5 separate regions of the Homo sapiens genome follow, and regions 2, 3, 4 and 5 are each linked to region 1. The links come from fine-mapping of genetic effects on gene expression. A gene starts in region 1. Each other region holds a variant in brackets. All regions are shown on one strand. Distances are between the middles of the regions. Region 1 holds the start of GPC1 (glypican 1). Region 2 overlaps GPC1 (glypican 1). Region 3 has its middle 140 kb from the start of GPC1. Region 4 has its middle 61 kb from the start of GPC1. Region 5 holds the start of GPC1-AS1 (GPC1 antisense RNA 1).

Evidence for each region. PIP is the estimated chance that this variant, and not a neighbour inherited with it, causes the effect.
Region 2: its variant is fine-mapped to the expression of GPC1 in tibial artery (GTEx, PIP 0.95).
Region 3: its variant is fine-mapped to the expression of GPC1 in neural progenitor cells (Aygun 2021, PIP 0.92).
Region 4: its variant is fine-mapped to the expression of GPC1 in testis (GTEx, PIP above 0.99).
Region 5: its variant is fine-mapped to the expression of GPC1 in minor salivary gland (GTEx, PIP 0.95). The same link has a PIP of 0.9 or more in prostate.

Annotation. Positions count from the first base shown.
Region 1 is chr2:240,432,792-240,437,888 of GRCh38, forward strand. It overlaps GPC1 (glypican 1), which reads left to right and starts at 2,872. Exons shown (of 9, transcript NM_002081.3): 1 at 2,872-3,293. The coding sequence starts at 3,128. RefSeq lists enhancers at 1,241-1,535, 1,935-2,511, 4,245-4,821, 4,873-5,097 and silencers at 2,341-3,000, 3,061-3,120.
Region 2 is chr2:240,465,200-240,470,296 of GRCh38, forward strand. It overlaps GPC1 (glypican 1), which reads left to right. Exons shown (of 9, transcript NM_002081.3): 7 at 1-11; 8 at 274-449; 9 at 859-2,877. The coding sequence ends at 1,091. It also overlaps a transcript of ANKMY1 not described here. Among named protein-coding and RNA genes, the nearest start is that of GPC1-AS1, 11 kb to the left of the region's middle. The variant C/T (reference allele first, on the strand shown) is at 2,499.
Region 3 is chr2:240,298,111-240,303,207 of GRCh38, forward strand. No RefSeq gene overlaps it. Among named protein-coding and RNA genes, the nearest start is that of GPC1, 140 kb to the right of the region's middle. The variant G/A (reference allele first, on the strand shown) is at 2,136.
Region 4 is chr2:240,371,698-240,376,794 of GRCh38, forward strand. No RefSeq gene overlaps it. Among named protein-coding and RNA genes, the nearest start is that of GPC1, 61 kb to the right of the region's middle. RefSeq lists enhancers at 1-1,880, 2,331-2,885. The variant G/A (reference allele first, on the strand shown) is at 2,681.
Region 5 is chr2:240,455,545-240,460,641 of GRCh38, forward strand. GPC1 (glypican 1) reads left to right here. Exons shown (of 9, transcript NM_002081.3): 2 at 3,486-3,644. It overlaps GPC1-AS1 (GPC1 antisense RNA 1), which reads right to left and starts at 1,156. Exons shown (of 3, transcript NR_161169.1): 1 at 1,053-1,156. It overlaps MIR149 (microRNA 149), which reads left to right and starts at 457; the gene lies at 457-545. RefSeq lists enhancers at 1-407, 2,360-3,011, 3,012-3,661, 3,662-4,312. The variant CG/C (reference allele first, on the strand shown) is at 2,364.

The sequences.
Region 1 (5,097 bases):
GTCTCCGAAAGACAATCCCTGAAACCAAACAGAAAGGGAAGCTGTCCGTCCATGGCAGCGGGCAAGGGCGTGCACACTCACGAGGGTTCCACGGAGCAAAAGTAGGATAATTTCTGGGCAGACCTGCCGTCCGAACGGCTGGGAGCTGCGGGCCCCCCGGCGCTCCCTGTGTCTTCTGAGCAGAGACCAGGCTCAGCATCCCGCAGACCCCCACCCTCCCTAGGCAGAGGCAGGAGTGGGCCCTAAGCCAGCAGTACACGCCCTCCAGGACCTGGGGTCCTCCACAGAAGATGGGGGCATGGAAGGGAGGCCCCCACGCCCTGGCCCAACAGGCACTGCCTGCCTCAGCCCGTCAGACAATGCTAAGTGTCCTCTGCCCTCACTGCACCTGTGGAAGAGCAGGTCCAGGCTGCGCCACACGCCCACTCTCAGGGACAAACTTTTCCTCTCAGGTGTTTCCTCACTTGCTCATTCATTCCTTCTTTGTGTCGCATACGTGTGCCCCCACTGTCTAGCCAGGCAAAGACACCAAAGCAGGAGGGGGTGGTCTTGGTCAGAGCCACAAGGGTCACTGTGGTGGCTGGGATTCGAGGCATCAACTATGTCCTCAAACCCATCCACGTGTCCTGTGTGGAGCGGCCCCAGGGACAGCGGTGGAAGAGGGGGCTGATCAGCCTTGCCCATCCTCCCAGAGTCCCAGTCTGGACCCTGCACCCGACTAGCACGGGCAGCCTGGCGGCTCCTGCCCTGGTGACAGCGGGCGTGTGCAGCATTGCCAGGAGGGAAGCAGGGGTAGCTGCAGCTGCTCAGGATCCTGCGGCTCCTCCCAGGTGCAAACACGGCTTTTGCTTCCAATGCCCCCGGCGGCATGTGCATCCTCTCCAGGGAAGGCCCTGGCTACAGGTCTCCTGGCCTGCGGAATGGGAATGATTCCAGGACCTGCGATGGTGGTAAGGACTTCCTTAGGAGATGAAGCCACCCAGGGGTCACCAGGGCCAGGCAGAGGCTGCCACCATCGCGTTCTAAGCCCTGCTGTCCACACTGCCATCCAGAGGCCCAGAACTAGGCTGGAGGAAGGACTTGCCTGGAGGAATAACCCAACCTGGTCAGATTAAGAGGAGGCGTAGACAGTGACGGGGTAACTATAGAGCCTCAGGCCGGGTTAACCTCAAGTCCAGCTTCCTAGGCCCAGGCAGCCCTGCCTGATCCCGCAGTGCGTGAGACCACACAGAGAGAGAGCGGGATCGTGGGCCCAGGCTCCTGACCGTGCTGGATAAGGTGTGCAGGCAGCCACGCCAGGCCCAGGCAAGAAGGAGCAAGCCTGGAGCATGTACTGAACAGGGGTCTGTGAGTCACAAAATGTGACGCAGCAGAGGGTATGTGGGGGAGGGCAGGGAAATGCACACTTGGATTGGGTCCCCAAAGCCTCCCTCTCCAGCAATGACTCAGTGTCTCTGGGTGAAGGAGCAACCTTCTCTGGGAGGCAGGGCAGGAAACCCCAAGAGCCCAGGGGGAGGGCACCCCACCTTCCTGCTCCAGCCCCACACAGCGGCTGAGAGCCCCAGGCACAGAAGGGGTAGGGAATGTTGCCACCACCCCCACCACGGACCCCGCTGCAGCTTCCAGGTGATGCCACAGGCCCTGAAATCAGGACACCCTTGCTGTACATGGGGGTCATCTTGAGGTTCTCTGCCAAGGATACTGACCTCTATGCCTGCCCCCAATTCTGCAGCTCAGGCACCTGGCTTCACCGCCAGGCCTTACCATGTGGAGAACAGGGGGCCGGGGTGGGGGGTCTGGGAGCCAAGGAAGGAGTGAAGCCCTCCAGACACCAACATCGCAGTCCTCGCCCCCTCCCTACAGACCCCATCCAGCCCAACTCCCCATGTGCAGCTAAAGCCACGCGCCCTCCTACCATACAAGGTGCAGGCAGCCCTCCCGCCTTCTTCAAAGAGGCATCTGCTCCGGCTCACTCCACCCTCCTCCCCCAGTGGCCTAACTAGTCGCCGGGTTCCAACCCTATCCCTTCTCCAGAGGTCATCTGGCCCCACCCAGCAGCCCAAACCAGTAGACCGGCCCTGCCCCATCACTTTGGTTTCTCCAGCATCCAAAGAACGTGGAGGGTCACCCCCCCAAAACAGCTGTCAAGGTCCAACAATTAAGCCATCTGTTGCCGCTCCCTGGGACTGGGAGAGGTGAGGTCGAGTTTCTTGGCGAGTTTCCTGCGTGCAGCCCCCACACCACAAAAGCCCCCGGTGCGAGCCGGAGCCCAGCGCGAGACGGCTGGAAGGGCGCGGGGAGGGAGCCGCTGCGGGGTGCAGGCGGGGAGAGGGGCGGCGGCTCGAGGCGCGGCCGGCGGGCGGAGGGTACGGAGGCGCCGGGAGAGCGTTCTCGGGGCGCGCTGCCAGGGTGCAGGAAGCCGGAGCGCGCGGGAGGGAGCGGGGAGCGGGATGCCGATTTCGGCTGGGGGCGGGGAGGCCCCTGATTGGGGCGCGGGAGGCGTGATGTCACGTCCGGCGGGGGAAGCCCTGCCTCGCGCACCCTCCGCCCCCGTCCCCGCCCCCACAGGTGGTGCCACCGCCCTGGGCGCTGGGCGTGGGGGGCCGCCCTCGGGGACCCCGGCCGCGGCCCCGCGCTGCCCGGCTCCGCCGCCTCCCGCCGGGGATCGATAGAGTCGCGCGGCCAGGCGGGCCCTCTGGGTCCCTAAGAGCCAGAGGAGCGCCCAGTGCGCCCCGGCCCGCGCCCCCGCGCCGCGCCCCGCCCCGCCCCGCCCGGTGCTCCCAGTCCCTCCCCCACCCCTGCGCTCCCACCCTGCCCCGCCCCTCTCCTCTCCCGCGGCCGCCTAGGGGCCGGGCCGGCGGCGGGGGAGGCGCCGAGCCGGGACTGCGCTAGCCCGCCGCGCTCTGGGCTGCCCGAGCGAGCGTTCGGACCTCGCACCCCGCGCGCCCCGCGCCGCCGCCGCCGCCGGCTTTTGTTGTCTCCGCCTCCTCGGCCGCCGCCGCCTCTGGACCGCGAGCCGCGCGCGCCGGGACCTTGGCTCTGCCCTTCGCGGGCGGGAACTGCGCAGGACCCGGCCAGGATCCGAGAGAGGCGCGGGCGGGTGGCCGGGGGCGCCGCCGGCCCCGCCATGGAGCTCCGGGCCCGAGGCTGGTGGCTGCTATGTGCGGCCGCAGCGCTGGTCGCCTGCGCCCGCGGGGACCCGGCCAGCAAGAGCCGGAGCTGCGGCGAGGTCCGCCAGATCTACGGAGCCAAGGGCTTCAGCCTGAGCGACGTGCCCCAGGCGGAGATCTCGGGTGAGTGAGGGCGCGGCGCCGGGAACCCGGGCCTGGCCGGGCTTTGGGCTCCGGACCCTGGTCTTCCCGACGCGGCTACTCGCCCCCGGCGCGGGATCCTGCCGCCTGCGCCCCGCCGCCCGGGCCCCGAATGGCTCCCTGCGCTGCGGCTCCTCTGCAACCCCACGGCCCTCGCCTCCAAGCCCCGCGCCGCACTCCCTCGCCAGGGTCTCCTCCGCCCCGCTCGGTCGTCCTCCGCCCCTCCCCGCCCCCCGCACGCCGGCTTCTTCCCTGCGGAGCTGATCTCGCCGGGCTGCGGGCTCGGGGCGCTCCTCCCGGGCCACGGCTGGAGCTGGGCGTCTTCTGCCCGCCGCTCGGCCCAGCGCGCCTGCAGGCCGGGAGTCCCAGCCCCGGGGCCGGCTGTCGGGGCGCTGTGGGGCTCGGCGTGGCCGGGCTTTCGGGGCGCCGCTGACGGTGGCCGCGGACCCCTTCTGCTCTGTACAGACCTCTCTGGGAGGCGTCTCCGGTCCTGCCCGGGGATTCTCGTAGGGTCTCCAGCAAAGGCAGCCTAGGTGGGTTTTATAAGCTGACCCCCTCGGGGGGTAGTGCGGAGGGGTGGGGAGGGAGCTGGGCACTTATCCGCGGGCGGAACGCCGCCGCCTCGTAGAGATTCCTGTCGAAGAACTTGTACGCGCCGGCCCCCGCCTGGCGCTTGGGCAGCCTCGTGCCGCGAGTCCAGCTGCAGGTGGTCGGCGCGTTGGATCCCGCCCAGGGGCCGTGTCATTTCTTTGTAAGAACAGCGGCCCTCTTGGCGCCCCCTAAGCCCTGCAGCCGCCTGCGGCTCTGCCTCTTCCCTCCCTGTGGTCCCGGAGGAGCTTTGGGGACAGAAGTGTACGGGTGGGTGGAACGGTGGGCTCCGTGTGCTAAGGAACTCTTGGAACCCAAGCTTCACCTTTCCACGTGTGGGAACCAACCTCGGTCTGTACCGCGTGCCAGGGACCCAGTGGGCAAGAACAAAACAGACTAGGTTCCTGCTCTGGGGGGCTCCTCTGAAACCAGGGGAGTGGGAGTGCGGGTGGAGGGCTACTCAGATGGGGACTCAGCGCAGAAATGCCCATGGTCCTGGGGATTCTGAGCAAGAAGGATCCGTGCATCTGGGTGAGGGGGGTCTGTGGCCATGCCTTGCCGCGGGGGGCGGAGTGGTGGGAGGAGGCAGTCGGGCTCTGGACCCCTGCCCCTCCAGGAGGAACAGAACCCACAGACAGCCCCTTGCCCTTGGTGGATCTCCCGATGCCCCCAGCCTGAGGTTCTTGTAAGGGCCCCCTGACCGCCCCCCACAGAAGGAACAGAACCCGCAGACAGTCCCTTGGCGGATCTCCCGATGCCCTCCCCACCAGCCTGAGGTTCTTGCAAGGACCCCTCCAAAGTCCCCAGGACAGGCCTTCCTGTGCCTCTGCAGAGGCAACCCTGTCATTTCCAGGCTGCCCCCCTCACCCCACTGGGCTCTGTCTGTCCCAGGTAGGGGGCACACCTGGATGCCAGGCAGCACAAGGCCCTCGGCACAGTTGGGTTCGTTCTCTGCCCCTCTACTCACACATAAAGAGGCATCCCTGGCCTTCCTGGTGAATCCCTCCCCAGGCACCAGGGTAGCAGAGTGGCTGAGTGGCTGCCCCTCCCAGCCCAGAGTCTTGAACCCTGCTCCTTTGGAAACCATTAGCCCCCAGCCCTTCTTAGCACCTCCATGTCCTCTGGGCAGTTGCATCCTTAGGAGCCAACCTAACCTTCCTTGCATCCACAGGCCACTGTTGCCAGTTAGAGAGACAGA
Region 2 (5,097 bases), 32 kb after region 1:
GCCAGAGGCCGGTAGGTGCCCACCTGGCTGGCACAGCCCTCCCTCCCATGCCGCCTCCATTGGGCTGTGCCTGGGCCAGGTGCTGTCTGCACGGGGCCACGTCCCTTGCTGGAGGGCTTGAGCCCCACTTCTCTGCGGCCTGTGTGGGCTCTGCTCGGTCCCTGGAAGCTGCTGGGCATCTCAGGCTCAGAGCGTGGGAGAGTGTCCTGCTCAGGTGATGGCCCTTTGCAGGGGCTGGAGCAGTGACCTGGGCTCTGCCTGCCTTTCCCCCAGGTACCTCCCCGAGGTCATGGGTGACGGCCTGGCCAACCAGATCAACAACCCCGAGGTGGAGGTGGACATCACCAAGCCGGACATGACCATCCGGCAGCAGATCATGCAGCTGAAGATCATGACCAACCGGCTGCGCAGCGCCTACAACGGCAACGACGTGGACTTCCAGGACGCCAGTGAGGGCAGGGCCTGGCCGGGCGGCCAAGGGGCCAGGGTTGGTGGGGGTGCCACAGGGGTGTGACTGCCCTCCGGGTTCCCCCACCCGAGGGGCCCTCTGCTCCGGCATCACCACAGTGAGTCTGAGGACGCTGTGCTGCCCAGGCACGATCACCGAGCCCTGCACCTCTGCGGCGCCCTGGAGGCCTGGCCGGGATGTCTGTTGGCTTTGGCTCCAGGGACCAAGGGAGGCAGCCCCAGGGAGTGAGAGTCTCCCAGCCTCAGGGGTCAGCGGGGATCAGGTGCTGCTGGTCCTGGGATTCCACACCGAAAGGATGTTGGGGTCACCTGGCACGGGCCCTTACAGGGTGGTGCTGCACTGGGGTCTCCTGTGGGGACCTGCCTGCCGGAGCCTCCTCTCCTTCCCAGGTGACGACGGCAGCGGCTCGGGCAGCGGTGATGGCTGTCTGGATGACCTCTGCAGCCGGAAGGTCAGCAGGAAGAGCTCCAGCTCCCGGACGCCCTTGACCCATGCCCTCCCAGGCCTGTCAGAGCAGGAAGGACAGAAGACCTCGGCTGCCAGCTGCCCCCAGCCCCCGACCTTCCTCCTGCCCCTCCTCCTCTTCCTGGCCCTTACAGTAGCCAGGCCCCGGTGGCGGTAACTGCCCCAAGGCCCCAGGGACAGAGGCCAAGGACTGACTTTGCCAAAAATACAACACAGACGATATTTAATTCACCTCAGCCTGGAGAGGCCTGGGGTGGGACAGGGAGGGCCGGCGGCTCTGAGCAGGGGCAGGCGCAGAGGTCCCAGCCCCAGGCCTGGCCTCGCCTGCCTTTCTGCCTTTTAATTTTGTATGAGGTCCTCAGGTCAGCTGGGAGCCAGTGTGCCCAAAAGCCATGTATTTCAGGGACCTCAGGGGCACCTCCGGCTGCCTAGCCCTCCCCCCAGCTCCCTGCACCGCCGCAGAAGCAGCCCCTCGAGGCCTACAGAGGAGGCCTCAAAGCAACCCGCTGGAGCCCACAGCGAGCCTGTGCCTTCCTCCCCGCCTCCTCCCACTGGGACTCCCAGCAGAGCCCACCAGCCAGCCCTGGCCCACCCCCCAGCCTCCAGAGAAGCCCCGCACGGGCTGTCTGGGTGTCCGCCATCCAGGGTCTGGCAGAGCCTCTGAGATGATGCATGATGCCCTCCCCTCAGCGCAGGCTGCAGAGCCCGGCCCCACCTCCCTGCGCCCTTGAGGGGCCCCAGCGTCTGCAGGGTGACGCCTGAGACAGCACCACTGCTGAGGAGTCTGAGGACTGTCCTCCCACAGACCTGCAGTGAGGGGCCCTCCATGCGCAGATGAGGGGCCACTGACCCACCTGCGCTTCTGCTGGAGGAGGGGAAGCTGGGCCCAAAGGCCCAGGGAGGCAGCGTGGGCTCTGCCAATGTGGGCTGCCCCTCGCACACAGGGCTCACAGGGCAGGCCTTGCTGGGGTCCAGGGCTGTTGGAGGACCCCGAGGGCTGAGGAGCAGCCAGGACCCGCCTGCTCCCATCCTCACCCAGATCAGGAACCAGGGCCTCCCTGTTCACGGTGACACAGGTCAGGGCTCAGAGTGACCCTCAGCTGTCACCTGCTCACAGGGATGCTGGTGGCTGGTGAGACCCCGCACTGCAGACGGGAATGCCTAGGTCCCTTCCCGACCCAGCCAGCTGCAGGGCACGGGGACCTGGATAGTTAAGGGCTTTTCCAAACATGCATCCATTTACTGACACTTCCTGTCCTTGTTCATGGAGAGCTGTTCGCTCCTCCCAGATGGCTTCGGAGGGCCGCAGGGCCCACCTTGGACCCTGGTGACCTCCTGTCACTCACTGAGGCCATCAGGGCCCTGCCCCAGGCCTGGACGGGCCCTCCTTCCCTCCTGTGCCCCAGCTGCCAGGCGGCCCTGGGGAGGGGTGGTGTGGTGTTGGGAAGGGGTCCTGCAGGGGGAGGAGGACTTGGAGGGTCTGGGGGCAGCTGTCCTGAACCGACTGACCCTGAGGAGGCCGCTTAGTGCTGCTTTGCTTTTCATCACCGTCCCGCACAGTGGA[C/T]GGAGGTCCCCGGTTGCTGGTCAGGTCCCCATGGCTTGTTCTCTGGAACCTGACTTTAGATGTTTTGGGATCAGGAGCCCCCAACACAGGCAAGTCCACCCCATAATAACCCTGCCAGTGCCAGGGTGGGCTGGGGACTCTGGCACAGTGATGCCGGGCGCCAGGACAGCAGCACTCCCGCTGCACACAGACGGCCTAGGGGTGGCGCTCAGACCCCACCCTACGCTCATCTCTGGAAGGGGCAGCCCTGAGTGGTCACTGGTCAGGGCAGTGGCCAAGCCTGCTGTGTCCTTCCTCCACAAGGTCCCCCCACCGCTCAGTGTCAGCGGGTGACGTGTGTTCTTTTGAGTCCTTGTATGAATAAAAGGCTGGAAACCTACAGCAGGGCGAGGCCTCGGGGGGAGAGAGAATGTGTGCGTATGTGTGTGTGTGTCTGTCTGTCTGGGGCTTGGGCATGGACCACACTTCCGTGTTTGGGGTGAACGTGCAGCCCCTGCCAGCTGCGCCCTTCAGCCTGTCTGCAGCTCCACCTTGCCCTGGACAGACTCCGGTCTGTCCGCCCCTCTCCTTGGTGCAGGGGAGAAGGAAAAGGCCAGGGCACGGAGACCCAGATGGCCTCCAGCAGGCCCCACCTCCCATCTACCTCTTCCTGCCTCCTGCCCCTGCTCTGGGCACACACAGCACAGAGATCCTCTACCCCTGGAAGGTTCTGGTTCCTGCCAGGTGGCCTCAGAGATGCCCAAGGGGCTAGAGAGAAGGAACCAGCATTGTCCCAAGGATGCCCTGGTGGTCCAGTTTGTCCCCAGCCACCTTTCTCTCGAGGCGGAGGGTCCTGTATAACCCTAGGGGCTCCCTATAGCCCCGCTCCTGTTCCTGTGGGGTCATGGCCAGAGGCTAAGTGGCACGGCGGCACTGGCAGAAGCGCCCACTGTTCTGGGTGTGTCCCTCAACTGCTTTATTGAGAATTGCAGCCAGTACAGGTTGGTCTGGTGAACATTTTTAACATTGCGTTTCCATCATCTGGGACCCAGGAATAGAGGGCCCCCTAGCAACTGGGACCTCCAGGCCCCTTGTGAGCGTGAGAGCACAGAGGGGTGGGTGGGCACCCCAGGAGGGAGATGCAGCTCCACCCAGCCCTGCTGAACTCCACTGCTTAGTAGGTCCCAGCTCCGGGCAGGACGAAGGGCTGCACACAGGCCTCCCACAAAGCATCTGCAGCCGCCAGGTCCCTGGTAGCCACGGTCCTCACTTGCAGGCCCCTCCGCAAGTCCCAGAGGCCCGGCTCCTCCCCTGGGAAATGAGGGTGGGGTGGAGTCCTCTCCGTGGCGGGCCAGGGGATGCAGCCTGGGGGCTCAGCGGGGCCCCTAGGGGACAGGTGAGCAGCCAGACACTCATCAGCGGCTGTAGTTGTGGACAACGCATTTGGTCCAGCCGGCAGGATCTCAGGCTTCCAGGCACCACCTTGCCCAGCTGCTTCAAGACTTCCACAAGCCCTTTTTGAACCTGGGCAAATGCATCTTTCATGTCAGGGAAAGGAGGACACAGGTGCGTGTGCACTCTGTGCAGAGCCGACACCACGCCAGGAGTGGGTGGGCAGGGGCACCCGGCTGGTCTCAGCCCTGCCTTCCCGGCCACACCTCAGACCACCAGGGAGCTCCCAAGTTCTGCCCACCCTAGTGCTGCCCCAAGAGGCTGCTCAGGGAGAGACCCCTTCCAGCCAGGGCTGGCTCTCAGTCCCTCTCGGTTCCTCACAGGAATTCCAGAAGCCACAGACAAACTGACCCACCCACACTGATGGGCAGAGAGCAGCCCCTCAGTCAGCCTCCCTTGAGCAGCTCAGCCCAGCCGTGGTGGGTGGCCCCAGCGTCTCCCACACCATCTGCAGGCAGCCCCGGCAGGCCAGCATGGGTGTCTGCTCCACACGAACATACACCCATCACACGGTGCACACACATGCACATGTGCACTCCACATTTACACACACAAACGAACACATACAACACCCTGTACATGCACACACAAGCACACATATCCATACACGTGCACACACTTCTGCACATGCACGTCCTCACATGCCCACATGCCCATGCACATGTGCACACTCCTACACATGTACACACATGCACACACATAGGTATGAACACGTACAATGCCCTGTGCATACACACACAAGCACACATATCCATACACGTGCACACACATCCTCCTGCACATGCATGCACTCACATGTACACATGCCCATACACATGCATGCACATGTGCACAGGCCTATGCACGTGCACACATGTAGACAGGTACACATGCCCATACACACATGCACACATTACATACATGCACAGTATACACGCATGCACTCACACAGAGACAGACACACCCGTGGGTGCACACACTGCTCCTGTCCAGGTGACCCTAAGTATTCTTTATCTGGGGACAAGGCCCTCTGTCGAGAAACACCATTTATAATCGCAGTGCTCCCTTGAGTTTGGGACAGACGACTAACTCCCACCTCTCAGTCCACCTTCCTCCTGCCCTAAGCCACTACTGAAATCATGGAAGGACCATAACTGGGCGTCCATCTCTCCAACAGACAGCATGTGTC
Region 3 (5,097 bases), 130 kb before region 1:
AACCCTGGAAGAGCCAGTCCTTGAAGATGGACCCCGCATGGCTAACTGGGCCTAATTTCAAAACAGAGCCAAGAGACCATCTGCTGACTAAAGGCCACACACATACTGTGCGCTCCCAGAAAACCCCACACTCACAGCACTCTGGGGCTTCCATAGCTGCCTGTTCCTGTCCACCACTCCTGGGAAATCCATCTGGACCCAACCATGGGCTGTCGCCTGTGCCAACCAATCAGAGCTCAGCAAGTTTGTATCCCGCATTTTCATAGTGGACCAGAGTGGGAACCTGGGTGGGAACTTTATAAATGACGTCCCCTCTCTTTCTTCTCTCAGAACACACTTTTGTTTCATGCCAAAGGCTACGTCTCCCTGGTTTGCAGACTGCTCAATGGAATAAAGTCTTTCTTTTTCTGAAAGAAAAACCTTTTCAGGGGATTTGCCTACAACGCCCACCATGAAGCAGTGTCGGAACACGAGCCCTGCTCACCTCAGAGACCTGGAAGAAAAACAGGTGCTCTGCAGCATTGATTGCAGCTCCCTTACCGAGACTCGGTCTCCATGTTGGCAGGCCTGTTCTAGAACATTCCAAGTCAAGTCAGGATGGTGCCCATGTGATTCAAAAGGCCAGTTCCTGTCTTAGCTTTGCTGGGGGGAGCACATGAACATAAATAACAGAGATAGAAATACAAATATAAATTCCAGGCACTGGCACTGTCTAAGGGGCAAACCGGGCCTCAAAGCCCCCCATGCAGGATCATTTGCAAGCACACGGTCGTGTGTGCACGTGGCCTCTGCGTGATTCTAAGTGACCCTCTGCACAGGCTGTGTCCAATTTTAATTTAAGGAGCAAAAGGAACATAAACAAGAGTCCAAGGAGTGCAGCCCGTGGCCTGCTCTTCAGTGTCCTCCGCTTGACAGGCTGTGGTCCCAGAACCAGGCTACACACACTTCCTGTTTGGTCTGGAATCCTGTGGATGGGCCCTGCTGGTCTGAGGTCCAGAAACGGTCCCCAGAGCTGCCCCGTCCAGGCCTTCTGGGCATTTCCTGCAGGGGCTGCACCCAGCTTCCTTGTCCCTTCCTTGGCCGCATGTCTTGGCACCTGTGACCTCCTGGCCACACCTCTGCCCTTGGCCTCCTCCGGGCTCCTCAGCCTGCCTGGATGCTGATGAGGGCCTTGGCAAGGCATGGTGCTACAGGGGGCACAGCGTGGAGCTCCCTCGACCTCATCAGCTGGGGACCCAGACATGCCTTCCAGACCTGTCCAGGCAGCCTCCTCCTCAGGCCCTTCGTGTCTCCCCTGCCTCCCACTCCAGCACCCCTGAAAACACCCAGGTCAGGGCCCACCTCAGGCTGGCCCACTGGGCAGTGCCCTCCCAGGGCACCGTGAGCCTTTTCCTCCCCATGACCCTCTCTCCAGGGGGACAGCAGAAAGCCCATCCTCTCCCTCCAGGGGGTGCTGCTGACTCTGTGGTCCCCTGAATGAGACCATCACTGTCACTGCTGAAGCCACGTCACAGTGGCCAGGCCCACCCAGGCCTCCCACCAGACAGGCTCGGCTCTGGGCCACTCATCTCCTGGACCAGCGCTAGGATGCACACCCCTCCAAAAATAAGAAGGAGGGCAGTGGGTTCCGAACTCAGGTTTAGAAAAAACACCAAGACAGTGTGGTCCCTTTGCTGAGCTCCCCGCCGGCCAAGTGTGTTCAAAGGGTGTGCCTCCATCCCAGCCTAAAGCCAGCTCATGCGCGTCACCAGCCTGCAGACAGCTCTCCCCAAGGCAGGATGTGGGTGGCTTCCAGCTGGGAGACAAGGGTCCCACAGGGCGGCCCTTGCAGACATGGGGGCTCTGCCTCGAATGCCTGGTCAGTCTCCACCTAGAAGACAGACATTCCCTGTAATTTCTGAAGTGGGAGTTCTTTCACTTCAGCCTCAAAAAGTGTTTCTGAGTGGAGGGCTCTATCTTTATCCATAGCTACCATCTCAGGCAGCAGTAATAAAATGGTAGAGTAAGTGAGTGTGTGTGTGTGTGTGTGTGTGTGTGTGAGAGAGAGAGAGAGAGAGAAAGAGAGGAGAGAGAGAGAGAGAGAAGTGGGGCGGGTGGCAAAGCAAATTAAATGCTGATTGCCACTCAACAGGGAC[G/A]AGTTAACTCTGGGCCCTGGCCTGTGACAGCACCCTTGTCATTCTCATGCTCCCCAGTCTCCCTCTGACTCCTGCAATCGTGCACCTGGTGGCTGTGTGTGAGCTGCCTCATAAACTGTGAAAGCAGGCTCCCAGACCCCAAAACCATGACCCCCAGGAGGCAGGTGTTGGCTGAGTCTCCAGAGCCAGCACAGAGCCCAACACCAGCTGCATTCCTGGGCAATTGTCTGGATGGGAGTGAGCGGCCCTTTCCTGCTGCACGGTGGGTCCTCAGGCATCAGAACAGCACCCTGCCTGGCCAGGGAGCCTTTGACTGACAGGCCAGGCGGGAGTCTGGGCCTCGGGATCAGGGGAAGGGAGATAGACAAAAACGATGCCCCAGACACTGGTGGGGGTGCCGAGGGCACCGGGAAAGGCAGAGCATGCCTGTGACGTGAGCCAGAGCCTTCTGAGGAAGGGCTGGGGGCCCCTCCCAGCCATCCGGAGCTCAGGCTGAGTTTGTGGTCCAGCACAAGATGTTCTCACTTGGGCCTGTCCCAGGCCACAGCAGGAGAACGGGAGACCAGTCTGGCTGGAAACACTGAATCCAGTCTCAGACCAGAATGGACACTTCAGGGCCACTTTCTGAAGCACACAGCCTCGCAGCCATGGCTTTTGGTCTTGTGGCCATTTCCCGACTCTCTGGGAGCCGATCTCAGTTGCTTGCCCTGACTTTTCCAGCTCAGGGTCCTATCCACTTCATGAACAAGGAGTATGCCTGGGCCTGGAACTCACAGCTCCCTGGGGCCTCATTCGAAGGACAGTCGACAGATGGAGAAACAGCCCCCAGGGCCTGGCACAGGGGACTGACCCAGCGCCAGCGTGTGCCTGAGCCAGCTCGTGCCAGCTCATGAGAGCCCACTGTCCTCTTCCCATCTCTGCATCATCAGCTTGAAGTCAGCCATGCCAGGAGTGTTTACACCATGGGAATCAGCAAACACTAGAAATAGGGGACTTTGTTTTTTCTTTGAGAGTCCGTTGTTCAACATTTACCAGCACACACAAGGGTTGATGAGTACGTTCCCCAGCCTGGGACAAAACCCGTCCTTTCCCACTGCCCTTCTCTTTTTGTTGGTAATTCATATGTCCACCCAATACTCACTTCATGCCACCTGCTCTGTGCCAGGCACTGGGGTGGGTGCTGGAAAGGCAAAGGTAGTTGGACACAGGCTCTGCCCTCCAGGAACCCAGGGGCTGGGAGGACCTGATGACGGCTGAGCGTTAACAGTTCCGACAGGAGGGAGTGCAGGACACCCGCTAGGGGAGGGAGAGAAGCGGCTCCGGGTACAGAGCACAGCCCCTACCAAGGACAAGAAGTTTCGGAGGCCACAGAGCTTCAAAGGACCACGTATGGCTCTGCATGCCAGGGAGGAGGGTAAGCTGGGGGCAGGAATGAGGAAATCAGAGACACCAGCAGGGACAGGATCGTGGCCAGCCCGTGTGCCTGCTGTGAGTGTTCACTGTGTCCTGGGGGCAATGGGGGCTAGGGCCAGGCCAGGGGGAGGAACCTGCTGGGGCCCACCATTTGGGAATAAAAACGGTCTTCTCATATTTTAGTGAAACCAGGTCAAATATTTTATCACAATTAGTTGATTCAAAAGGGAGCCCCTGGTCACCACTGACTCTTCCTTCGTTAGCTGTTTTCTAAGGTTGTCAAAGCCAGAGACTACGAGAAGGAGATGGAGACCCTCGGTAAGTCAGATGGTGCACAGCAGAGTAGGGGAGGCCAACCTGAGCCCTAAACCTGCAGAAGAGATCTGCCAACACAGAGTGGCTCTCACTCTCCATACTCCAAGGCCAGGCATCAAGTGTGCACCACAAGCAGAGAGCAAGACGTTCACAGGTTGCCTTTCCATCTGTGGCTGAAAATCCTCAGTCCAGGGTTTCTGATGCCCTTGATTTTGTAAGCTGTCCTGCCATCGCATTAGGTATTCAGGTGCCCAGCCTGATGCTCTTGGCAATGACCAATTGCTTCCACCACCCTTGTTCCAGGAGAGTACAGCATCCCGTGGATCAGATCCACCATCCTTGTTCCAGGAGAATGAAGCATCCCGTGGACCAGGTCCACTGTCCTTGTTCCAGGAGACTGCAGCATCCCGTGGACCAGGTCCACCATCCATGTTGCAGAAGAGTGCAGCATCCCATGAACCAGGTCCACTATTCTTGTTGCAGGAGAGTACAGCATCGCATGGACAAGGTCCACCAGCCTTGTTCCAAGAGAGGGCAGCATCCCATGGACCAGGCCTACTGTGCTTGTTGCAGGAGATGTAGATGTTACCCAGAGCCGTGCTGGGAGTCACTCATATTGGTTCAAGGGTGTAGGACAGATGTTGACCCCCAGAAAGGGAGAGAAACACCTGAGCAGCATCCTATGGACTAGGTCCACTGCTCTTGTTCCAACAGAGGGCAGCATCCTGTGGACCAGGCTCACTGTCCTTGTTCCAGGAGACTGCAGCATCCCGTGGACCAGGTCCACCATCCATGTTGCAGAAGAGTGCAGCATCCCATGAACCAGGTCCACTATTCTTGTTGCAGGAGAGTACAGCATCGCATGGACAAGGTCCACCAGCCTTGTTCCAAGAGAGGGCAGCATCCCATGGACCAGGCCTACTGTGCTTGTTGCAGGAGATGTAGATGTTACCCAGAGCCGTGCTGGGAGTCACTCATATTGGTTCAAGGGTGTGGGACAGATGTTGACCCCCAGAAAGGGAGAGAAACACCTGAGCAGCATCCTATGGACTAGGTCCACTGCTCTTGTTCCAACAGAGGGCAGCATCCTGTGGACCAGGCTCACTGTCCTTGTTGCAGAAGAGGGCAGCATCCCATGGACCAGGTCCAGATGAGGCCAGACTTTGTCCTTCTATAAGAGGTGCCAGCCCACTTGCCTAAGGCTCAGTGCTATCCCCTTATTGCCTTCTCTAGC
Region 4 (5,097 bases), 61 kb before region 1:
ATCCATCCTGTTGGGGATACAATGAAGCCACAGCAGGCCAATGAGTTGAAGGACAGGAGTCAGGAGAGCAGTGAGGGCGAGGTGGGCTCGGGTGTGGCGGGCCCTGGACAGCTGGCCACTGTTTCTGGGACTTTGGATGGTGGCGTGGAGCCTGGCATTTTGTCCTGATGATGCCCGCCGTGCCTGGGGCTGGCCGAGTCTTCCCCGCTGGCCTGGGCCCCCAAGCTAGGGCTGCCCTCTCTGCCAGTCTGAGCTGAGTTTCTAGGCTGAGTTGGTGGCTGCCTCTCTGGGTCTTCTGAGACTTCACCAGGTAGTCTCTGCAGAAGCTTCTGGAACTTGCTGCAGCCATGACTGCCCCAGAAATAAGAGAGGTGCCCTTCTCTGCCCTTCACCCACCCTTGAACACTGGCCCAGCACCAGCCTGAGAGGGTCCTGGGCAGGGCCAAGCTTGCAGGACCCCAGAGGAGCCCAGAAGTGGTCCTGGTGGGGGTGCTGGGGCGTGGGGGTCCCCTGGGCTGGCCACCAGAGGGTTTCCTCCAGACCGCTGTGTGCCTGGGCTGGGGGAGGGCCTGGGCTGGGAACAAGGAGGATCTGTGCTCTGGGCCTGGGCAGGAGCCAGTTTGGGGCCCTCCTTGGGCCTTTGAAGTCCCAGGCGCACCCACCCTGAGGCCTGGGTAGGGCAGAGGCCTGGTGAAGCCCCACAGAGGTTTCTTGCGGAGGAAATCTCAAGTCCCTGAGAGGGGCAGGTGGGAGAGGGATGTGGGAGGGATGGGAAGAGGGGGCAACGAGAGCAGGCTGTGGTGGGGGGAGGGGCGTGGCAGAGGGGCAGGGCATGGAGGGGGCAGGGCTGTAGACAGGAAAAGGAGCACGGAGGAGGACAGGGCTGTAGTTGAGGGGCAGGGGTGTGGAGGAGGGGAGGTCATGGAGGGCAAGATGTGGAGGGGGGCCAGGCCATGGAGGGAGCAGGGTGTGGAGACGGCAGGACTGTGGTAGGGGTGAAGGGGCATAGAGGAGGGCAGGCCTGTGGTTAGGGGCATGGGTGTGGAGGATGAGCACGGCAAGGAGGGAGCAGGGCTGTGGTGGGGGGAGGGGCATGGGGAAGGACAGGGCACGGAGGGCAGGGCCATGGAGGGTGGGAAGTGGTGGGTGGGCTGTGGAGGTCCCCCCAGGGCCACTCCTGTTGGGGCTGCTGTAAGGAAACCCCATGAACTGCGTGGCTTGTAAACATCAGGAGTTTATTTCTCACAGCCCAGAGGCTGGAGGCCGGAGATCAAGGTGCCAGCCTGGTCGGGGTCTGGGGAGGGCTGTCCTCTGAGTTGTGGATTTCCGACTTCTCATTCCGTCCTTAAAGCGGCAGAAGGAAGGGGAAGGAGCCCTCTGGCCTCTTCTTACAAGGTCACGGGACCCATTCATGACAGCAGCGCCTTTGTGACCGCATCACCGCCCAAAGCCCCACCTCCTAAAACCGTCATATTGGGGTTCGATTTCAACATAAGAATTCGGGAGCTGGGCGTGGTGGCTCACACCTGTCATCCCAGAGCTTTGGGAGGCTGAGGTGGGAGGATCGCTGGAGCCCAGGAGTTTGAGGCTGCAGTGAGCCATGATTATGCCACTGTACTCCAGCCTAGACGACAGAGGGAGACCCTGTCTAAAGAATTTTGGGGCAACACAAACATTCAGTCCATAATACTCCCCATGGACAGGCCACGCTTCTTGCCTCAGCTTGGATCTTCTAGGCCAATGCAGGTCCCAGCCCAGCAGCCTCAGCGGACCGAGTCTCGGGGGCCGGCAGGGGTCTGTACCTGCTTCCCCGGCCCCTTTACCGCCCACCACTCTGCTCAGGTCTCTGGACCTGTGGGCTTTCCAGGCTCCTTAGACCAAAGCCCACCAGCCCGAGCCCAGCATCTGCGCAGGTGCTGTGGGGACCAGGACATGGGTGCTGGGGTGCACGGCCTCTGTGATAATCCGGGACACAGCACTCGGACGGAGCCTGCACTGTTTCTTAAACACACACAAGGTGGCCTGGACACAGATGCTGGAGTGCGCGGCCTCTGTGACAATCCGGGACACAGCACTCAGAGGCTGCACCATTTCTTACACGCACGGGTGGTAGCCCCTTCGATGGACAGTACTCATTCTCAGACTCTGGCTGGGCCCCTGGGGTGCTGGAACCAAGATGAGGAATCAAAAACAAGGGTCTGGGAAGTAGCCCAGGCTGAGGCTCCTAGGAGGGAGGGCGAGAAGTACCCGAGTACTAGGGCTAGCTGGACGTGTTGACCCTGCTTGGCCTCCCCTCCCAAACCCTGGACCTCAGTGAGCCTGGGTACTGGGGCTAGCTGGACGTGCTGACCCTTCCTGGCCTCCCCTCCCAACCCCTGGACCCAGGTGGACTGGGGTACCAGGGCAAGCTGGGCATGCTGACCCTGCCTGGCCTTTCTGGTCTCATTGTGACTCAGGCCTGGGGGTTCCCGAGGCTCCCAGCTTAGAGGCGGACATGGCTGTGAGGCCCTCGCCCTTTCCCACTCAGCAGGGATGAGTTCAGGGATGGCCAGGCCCCAGTGATGTCACCAAGTTGAGCTTCTGAGCTTCTGGTGCCTGTGTGGGAGCTGCAGCCCTCAGGAAGAAGTGTCCTCCCCTCCTCAAGGGACCAGAGAAGGAGGATGGGGAGGAGGCCTGGCCC[G/A]AGGTCGTCTGATGCCAGCCTGGGGCCTGGAGCAGCCTGGAGCCAGCATGCGTTCCAAGGGGAATTCCTGGGGAATGATGCAGCCGGCCTCGCTATCACAAGCTGTCATTTGAGGGAGAGCCGCACTCGGAACGCCTCCCAGCCCCAGTGCAGGAATCCATCTGGCAAGTCTGCCCTCGGACACTCACAGGACACTCTTCCAGGATCCCTGGGCCTCGGGGTGGGGCCAGGGTCTCAGGGGAGGAAGTGCCCAGATTCCTGGACGCTGGCCCCGAGGAGGGTCTGGTGGCAGCCACCTCGGTCAGGACGAGGACAGAGCGTCCAGCCCCGTGCCAGCTCAGTGGCCTCAGAATACCACAGCCACGTCCCTCCTGTCCAAGGCCCAGCAGTCCCCGGGACACTCCAAGAGCCATCCACTTTCTAGATTTGGGCTTCCCCTCCTCAGTGACCCCAGCTCCTCCCCAGAGAGCAAACCCTGAAGCAGCTCCTCTGGGGGTCTTTAAGAGGAGAATAGGACTCGTGCTATGCTCGGGGTGGACTGAAATCATGCTCATCACACTAAAGCATACTGCAACATAAAGCCAGGTGTTTGCAAATGAAATGCAAACAGTCACACAGAGCCAGCAAAGCTACCCTTCACCTCACTTGCCGAATGAGGCTGTTCGGCTGAAACTCAGTGTCACCGGGCCCTGAGTCTGCACACTCACGCTCTCAGCTGCTACAGAATGATGACTCGGTTTCCCCACCGCTCTTTGGATTCAAGCTGCTGCAAAGCCCTCCCCAGCCTGGGTGTCGAGAAGTTGCTTGGCCCAGTCGCATGGCACGCCCAGGCAGTGGGGCCCGCAGACAGCGTGGGCACCGTTTACGGATGAATCGACGAGCCCCTCTTCGCCTCCATCCCTACGCGATGCACTTCCCCATTCTCCTGACACCGCATGGGCTGTTTCTGACTTCCAGCTACCAGGAGCAAGGCTGCCATGACCTCCTGTGTGTGTACATCGTGCTGCCGTCACACGTGCCCCGATTTCCGCAGGGTGCCCACGTCCAGGGTAAAGCCGCTGAGTCAGGGAATCTACATCTTCAAGTTGACCAGGCGTTGTTCAGCCAGTTCCCAAAGTCACTTCAGTGACTTCCACTCAGAGTATGAAAGGCCCCATTTCTCTCCAGCCTCATCAACACAGTACTGTCAGCATTTAGCCCCTGCCAACCAGGAGATAGCATGGTGGAGACCCACTGCAGTCCTGATGCGAGTCTCCCTGGTTACCAAGAAGCTGGTCCCTGTGCACACATCTTATAGCCAGTTGGGTCTCCTCTCTGCCAACCACCTGTCCCAGTGCCCTGACTGCTTTTCTGTGCAGTTGCCTGTTGTTTTGTCATTGATTTGCCAGTACTCTTTACATATTTTAGATTCCAAGTCCCGTCAGTTACATATGTTGGAATATTGTTTTTCATTCTGTGACTTGTCTTTTTCAAGGTCTTGGGACTTTTCCTTCCCTAAAACATTTAAGGACCACTTACCAGACATGCTGGCCCATACCTGAGTGTGGAGAGAACAAGGCGTTGGTAACAGCCCGGCCTTTGGGACTCCACCACATGGAACAGAGCAGCCCCCTGGTGCAGCAGGAGGGCTGCTGGGGACATCACTGAGGAGTCACATCTTGGAGCTGGTGTAGCAGGAGGGATGCCACTGGGGGACCTCACCTCGGAGTAGGAGTGCAGCGGGCAGACTGGCTGGAGAGGTTTCGCTGGAGAGCGGTGCCCATAGAGGCATCTCAGGGCCATCCTGGCCTGCGTGAAGCAACATGACGCCCCATCCCTCCATAGAAAGGGCTGTGCCAGCAGCTCCCACTTGGCCTCTGCGTCCAGGAGTGTGAAGGGATGATTTCTCTGCCCCCTTTGAGAGCCTCCATCTTTATTACATGGGCAGAGGGCCTCCTGGGAGGAAGGTACATGTGTCCAGGGCTCCAGAGCACAAGGTCAGTTTAGGAAGTGCTGACTGCAGCCAGGTCCTCACCAGCTCTCCCACACTGGAGCTAACTTGGCAGTGCCAAGAAAGGTCCAGGAAAGTCAGGGCTGGGGACTATGGGCAGTGGCAGCCTGGGGAGCCCCGTTCCATCCCCAGCCTGGGAAGGGAGGGGAAGGCGCCCCACCTGGGACCCCCGTGGGCCTCACTGTCCAAGGTGTGCAGTGAGCGGCCCACCTGAGTGATCAGCCTGCTCAGAGAGCTTCAGGTCAAAACGCTGCCTGCCCCACAGCCCAGCTGCTTCTTCCAGTCCCGTCCTCAGACACCCATGAAGACACAAACACAGACACTTCCTATCAGGAGACGAAGATGGGCAGATGGGAACCGGAGCCTGGGAGGACCGATACTAATTACAAGGCGACAGAGCCAGATGAAACACCTAAGCACGCCTGCG
Region 5 (5,097 bases), 23 kb after region 1:
GCCAGGAAGGAGAGGGAGAGGGACATGGGGAGGGTTCCCTCCTGGCCTGAGGCCTCTCTATCCCCAGGTGTTGAGCTGAGAGAAGTGGTGGGGAGGCCCCTGGGGGTGGGGAGGCCCCTGGGTGGGGAGATTTAAGATGACAGCTGGTCTTGGGCACATTGCTCTCCATTCAGAAAGGCCCCAGCCCCTGGCATTCTTCCAGGAGGGGGCTTGCTTTGCCGCCCTGCAGGGGGACTCTGCAGAGCCGGCCTCTGCCATCTCATGTCCAGGACCACAACCTGTGGCCCCGGCCTGCGCCGGGCCGGAGCTCCGCAGAAGGAAGCCAGCGGGAGGCCTCCTGCCTTTGACTGCCGTGCGTCCAGCCTGCAGCGGGCCTCAGGGGGCCGCCTCGATCCAGCCTGCCCGAGGCTCCCAGGCCTTCGCCCGCCTTGCGTCCAGCCTGCCGGGGGCTCCCAGGCCGGCGCCCGAGCTCTGGCTCCGTGTCTTCACTCCCGTGCTTGTCCGAGGAGGGAGGGAGGGACGGGGGCTGTGCTGGGGCAGCTGGAACAACGCAGGTCGCCGGGCCGGCTGGGCGAGTTGGCCGGGCGGGGCTGAGGGGTCGGCGGGGGAGGCTGAGGCGCGGGGGCCGGTGCGCGGCCGTGAGGGGGTGTGAGAGGTGGCTGACGGCGCCGAGGAGCCCCTCAGAACCTGCAGGTGGGGGGAGCTCCCATATCTTACGGGTGTTTCGGGCCTCACCTCTCCATGCCTCTCGTCAGCCTCTCCCGTCTGCGTGGTGGGGGCTGGGGAGTGGGTCCGCCGGGACCTCGCGAGGGAGGGGCACAGGAGGAGCCGGCGGGGGACGCCACCCACCCTCCTCCCTAGGAGTGCTTGAGCCCTAGTCCTGAGTCTTGGACCAGCTCACTCGGTTCCTGTGGCCCAGCCAGCCTGGCCTGGGTGCCCCGTCACAGCTGAGCCCATCTCAGCTGAGCCCAGGGTGTGTCACCGGGAAGCTCAGCTGGCACCTGCCACCCCCTCCCCCAGGCACGTTTCCCTCCCACTGCCCAGCCCATTACCATCATGTGTCCGGCTGACCTGTGCTCTCCTGGTCTGGGCAGCCTGGATGGGTGCACAGGGCCCCATCACAGCCCACACCCTCGGAGAGACGCCTCCTGAGTCTGCTCAGCCTGGCACAGGCCCCAGGAAAGGACCCGGAGGGGCGGTTCCTGCTCTAAATCCTGCCCCCACGGGGGTGGGACTGGGGCAGAATCCCATCAGTGAATAAAGGCTGCAGAGTGAAGGATGGTCCCTGGCGAGTGTACCTGTGTCCCAGTCTTCTTGCCTGAGGGCGCCTTCCCACCCATGTGAGGAGTGGGGAAGGAGCACCCCTTCTCTACTAGGCCCCAGGGCTCTCAGAGCCGGGCTCTGTCCTCACCCCAGCTGGCTCCCACAAGGCCCTCCTGGCCCCAGACTCTGTTGGACCCCCAACTCCCCCTCCAGCAGGCATCTGGAGGTAAGGAGGGGCGGGGGGCGCAGGTGCACTTGCCATTCCCGCTCTGTCTGCAGCATGGGCACATGTAAGTCCAGGCCCTGGGGAATCCCTGGACCTGCAGCCCCTGCGGAGGACTCCCTCCCCCTCTAGCTCAAGCCAGAGCCCCCTGCATCAGTACATTCCAGAACTCAGACAGGAAAAGAGGGCAAGGAGGGAGCGCTCCAGGATAAGAACCCCTACCTCGGCCCTCCCTCGCTCTCCCAGGCCCCTCTGACAACCTGTCTCCTTGCTGTCATGTCAGCAGGCACAGAGGCTACAGGGGCCAAGCGGCAGCCGCCCAAGCCCGGATTCGGGTTCTCTGTTCCCTTCTCTTGTCTCGGGCTCCTCCCTGAGTGTGTGTACTTAGAGGGTGCGGAAGATCAGCAAACTCAGTCTGACCCAGGCATTCAACCTCTGGGTAGTTACCTAGTCCTGGGTCCCCACCCCAGATGGCCTCTAGTGGGTAAGGGCTTCCTGGACCCCAGGCCTGAGGGGTGACTTCTCTTGCAGTAAGCGGGTAGGGCACTGCCTGCGCTGCTCCAGGCCCTGCCTGCAGTGGGGCTACAGATCCCTGCTCCCACCTCCAGGCAGGGCTGGAGCTGCTGCCAGCTCCCCCAGGACAGCCTCGAGCCAGGTGCCTCTGCCCGGGCTGACCCCGCCCTCGGTCCCGGTCCTGGCTCCCTCTCCTGCCTCTCCTCCCTGGCCTGGCCTTCACTTCCTGCTGACCCTCAGGAGGGCGTAAAAGAATGCAGGACCTGCTGCATTCCAGCCACCCTGGCCCAGGGTCCCAGAACAGGATGAGACAGGCCCCTGAGGCGGCAGTCCTGAGGAAAGTTGCTGGAATTCCTGCTGACAA[CG/C]CCCCCCCTTGACCCCACCCCTCTGACCAAGCCAGGCTCCTGCTTCCACCTCTCCACTGTGCCTGACCTAGGCCAGCACCAGGAGGGCCTTAGAGGCGGGGGACGAGGCCCAGAAGGAACAGTGTGGCCCCGTCAGTGTGGAGTCCTGAGCTTAGGCAGCCGGAACCACTTGCCCCCTCACTGTATAGCTGGGACGAGACCTCATCCCTGTAAGCCCCGGTTTTCTGGTTAATAAAATGAGGATTGCGGCAGCCTTCATCACAGTGCGATGCACACCCTTTAAAAAATGCAGTTTTTCCTGATGCCACACACCCATTCCAGGTGGGCCCTGAGGTGTGCACAGCAGGGCTGAGAGCTGACTCAAAGCCTGTCCTGTCCCCACTCCCCACAAGGAGGTGAAGCTGTCTCTGATGGCAGTGCCGCTGTCACTGCCTCGGACGCTGGAGCAGAGTAGCTCATGGCAGGCTGCAGAGGAGGGGACTCCACAAGGACACCAGGAGGCACAGGGTGCACCCTGCAGGGCTTGGGGCATGGTCCAATGACCCTTTCATGGGGCCTGCCAGCTGCACCAGAGCACACCTGCCCCCATACCAGACTCGTGCCTGGGGTCCTGCAGGGCCACTGCCTCTGACCAGCCCACTGTTGGTGGGATCTGCCGTCCTTGCAGTGGGAGCTTGGTGCCCCCCAGGGCTGGTGTGGGAAGAGAGGGGGATTGGATTCCTTCCTCCTTCCCCATCCTCAGACATGGGCCCAGGCAAGGGGTGCCTTTCGGGCCTGGGAGCCTTCTCCACACTTGCACACAGGAACCTGAGGCCAGTTCTTTGCTTGCAGCTGCTGGGACAGCAGGCTGGGGGGCAGGACTTGCCCAAGGGGCCTCCTGCCCTGTAGAGGCAGCCGTGCTCTTGTGTCACGTGTGGGAAGCTACGGGACCGAAGCCAGGCCTTTTCCTCCCTCCACACCCCGACCACTTCTGCCTTCACCCAGGGCACCCCCCAGGCTGGCCCACCCCTGAGCTGTGCTCCACCCTGGGTCTGCCATCCTGCCCAGGAGAGCCTGAGGGTGCCCTCCTGGCTCCCAGTGCTGTCCCAGCCCCTCTCCCTCACACTGGCCTTTCCCCACAGGTGAGCACCTGCGGATCTGTCCCCAGGGCTACACCTGCTGCACCAGCGAGATGGAGGAGAACCTGGCCAACCGCAGCCATGCCGAGCTGGAGACCGCGCTCCGGGACAGCAGCCGCGTCCTGCAGGCCATGCTTGCCACCCAGCTGCGCAGCTTCGATGGTGAGTGCCTCCCACGGGCGCTCGGGGCCCGCAGGGTGCCGGTGCATCGGGGGAGGGGCACACTGGGCCTTGCCTGGTGTGTCAATGCCAAGGGTGGGGGATTGGCAGGAGGAGGTGGGGGAGTTAGTGCTTTGGGGCTAGGGCGCTGGGTTGAAGCCCCAGCTGGGATTTGGGGGCTGCCCTCAGGCAGGGATCTGCAGGGTTTGACACCCCCCTGGGAGTGTGCACAGCCCATTCCCAGTGCACATTTGGGGACAGAGGGCCTATCCCATCAGCCCCTCAGAGGCTCCTGTCACCAGCAGATTCTCCTGAGCACCTGCAGGGAGACAGGCCTTGGCCAAATCCTGCCTGCAGCTCGTCAAGTGCCCCAGGCCACTGCCCCTGGGGACCAGGTGGCCTGGAGCCAGGGAGCTCAGTGCAAGGGCTGAGACTGGGGCTGGGGACAGGGCTGCAGAGTGCAGGGCCTGCCTGGGGTGGCCGCCACTCAGCCCTTTATATCGGGGCAGGAGTCTGGGGGCCGCGGGGAGTGACCCCTGCAGGCCTTGAGGCCCCGCCAGCTGCTGCATTAGAGCCACGTACTCCTCGGCCCAGGCTGGGCCTCGCCTTGTGTCTGGGCAGAGAGTGGCAGCCACCCCCAGGGGGACAGTGTGGGGTCAGGAGGTCCTCCATGAAGTGACCTCTGATCAGAAACACGAGGACTTGGTGGAGGGAGGCGGCCCGGGCTGAGGTACTGCCCCTGTGTCCGGGCGGAGCCAGGGCGCCGGGACAGTGAGCCTGGGCAGACAGGAGGGAGGGAGCGCTGAGGCTGCAGGGCTCCATTGTGGCTGTGAGGGACGGCAGCTGCTGCTGGGGCCCTGGGGTTTGTCTCAGCGTTCCTGCTTCTCCGGCTCCTGGACACCTGCTGTGGCCTCCCAGGCTCCCGGGAGAGTCTGCCTGTCCCCAGGAGCCCCCAAGGCCATTTCCACAGGGCTGTGGGACCTCAGCTGTTGGCGTACACCTGGGTAGCAGTGGGTCAGAAGCTCCCTCTCTGTGACTTGGACATCGATGCTCAGAGCTCAGCCCTCCCCGCTGGTGTGGGGCCCGTGGGATGCGCGTGGCCCCTCTGGGACTCTCCTTCCTCCTGCCCAGCTGGACCCGGGGAGCGAGCCCCTGCACCCTGAGTCAGGAGCCTTCCTGAGCCACTTGGTTCTGTCCCATGTGTAGGGACCCGGCTCACCTCCTCCACTCTATCCTGGGCCTCAGTTTCTCCCCAGCGCCGCTGAGCCCTGGCTCCCGCCCCAGCGTGCCACCCAGCCCTGCCCCTTCCCCTCTCCTGCTAATACCCTTGCCCATCACACCATCCTCCTGGCCTGGGGACATCCTGCCCGCCTGCTTCCTCCTGGCTCTTAGGGGGTTGGTGTCGCTGCCCTGCTCTGGGGCCTGTCCCGTGTCAGTGCCCTGCCGCCGCCCTCCC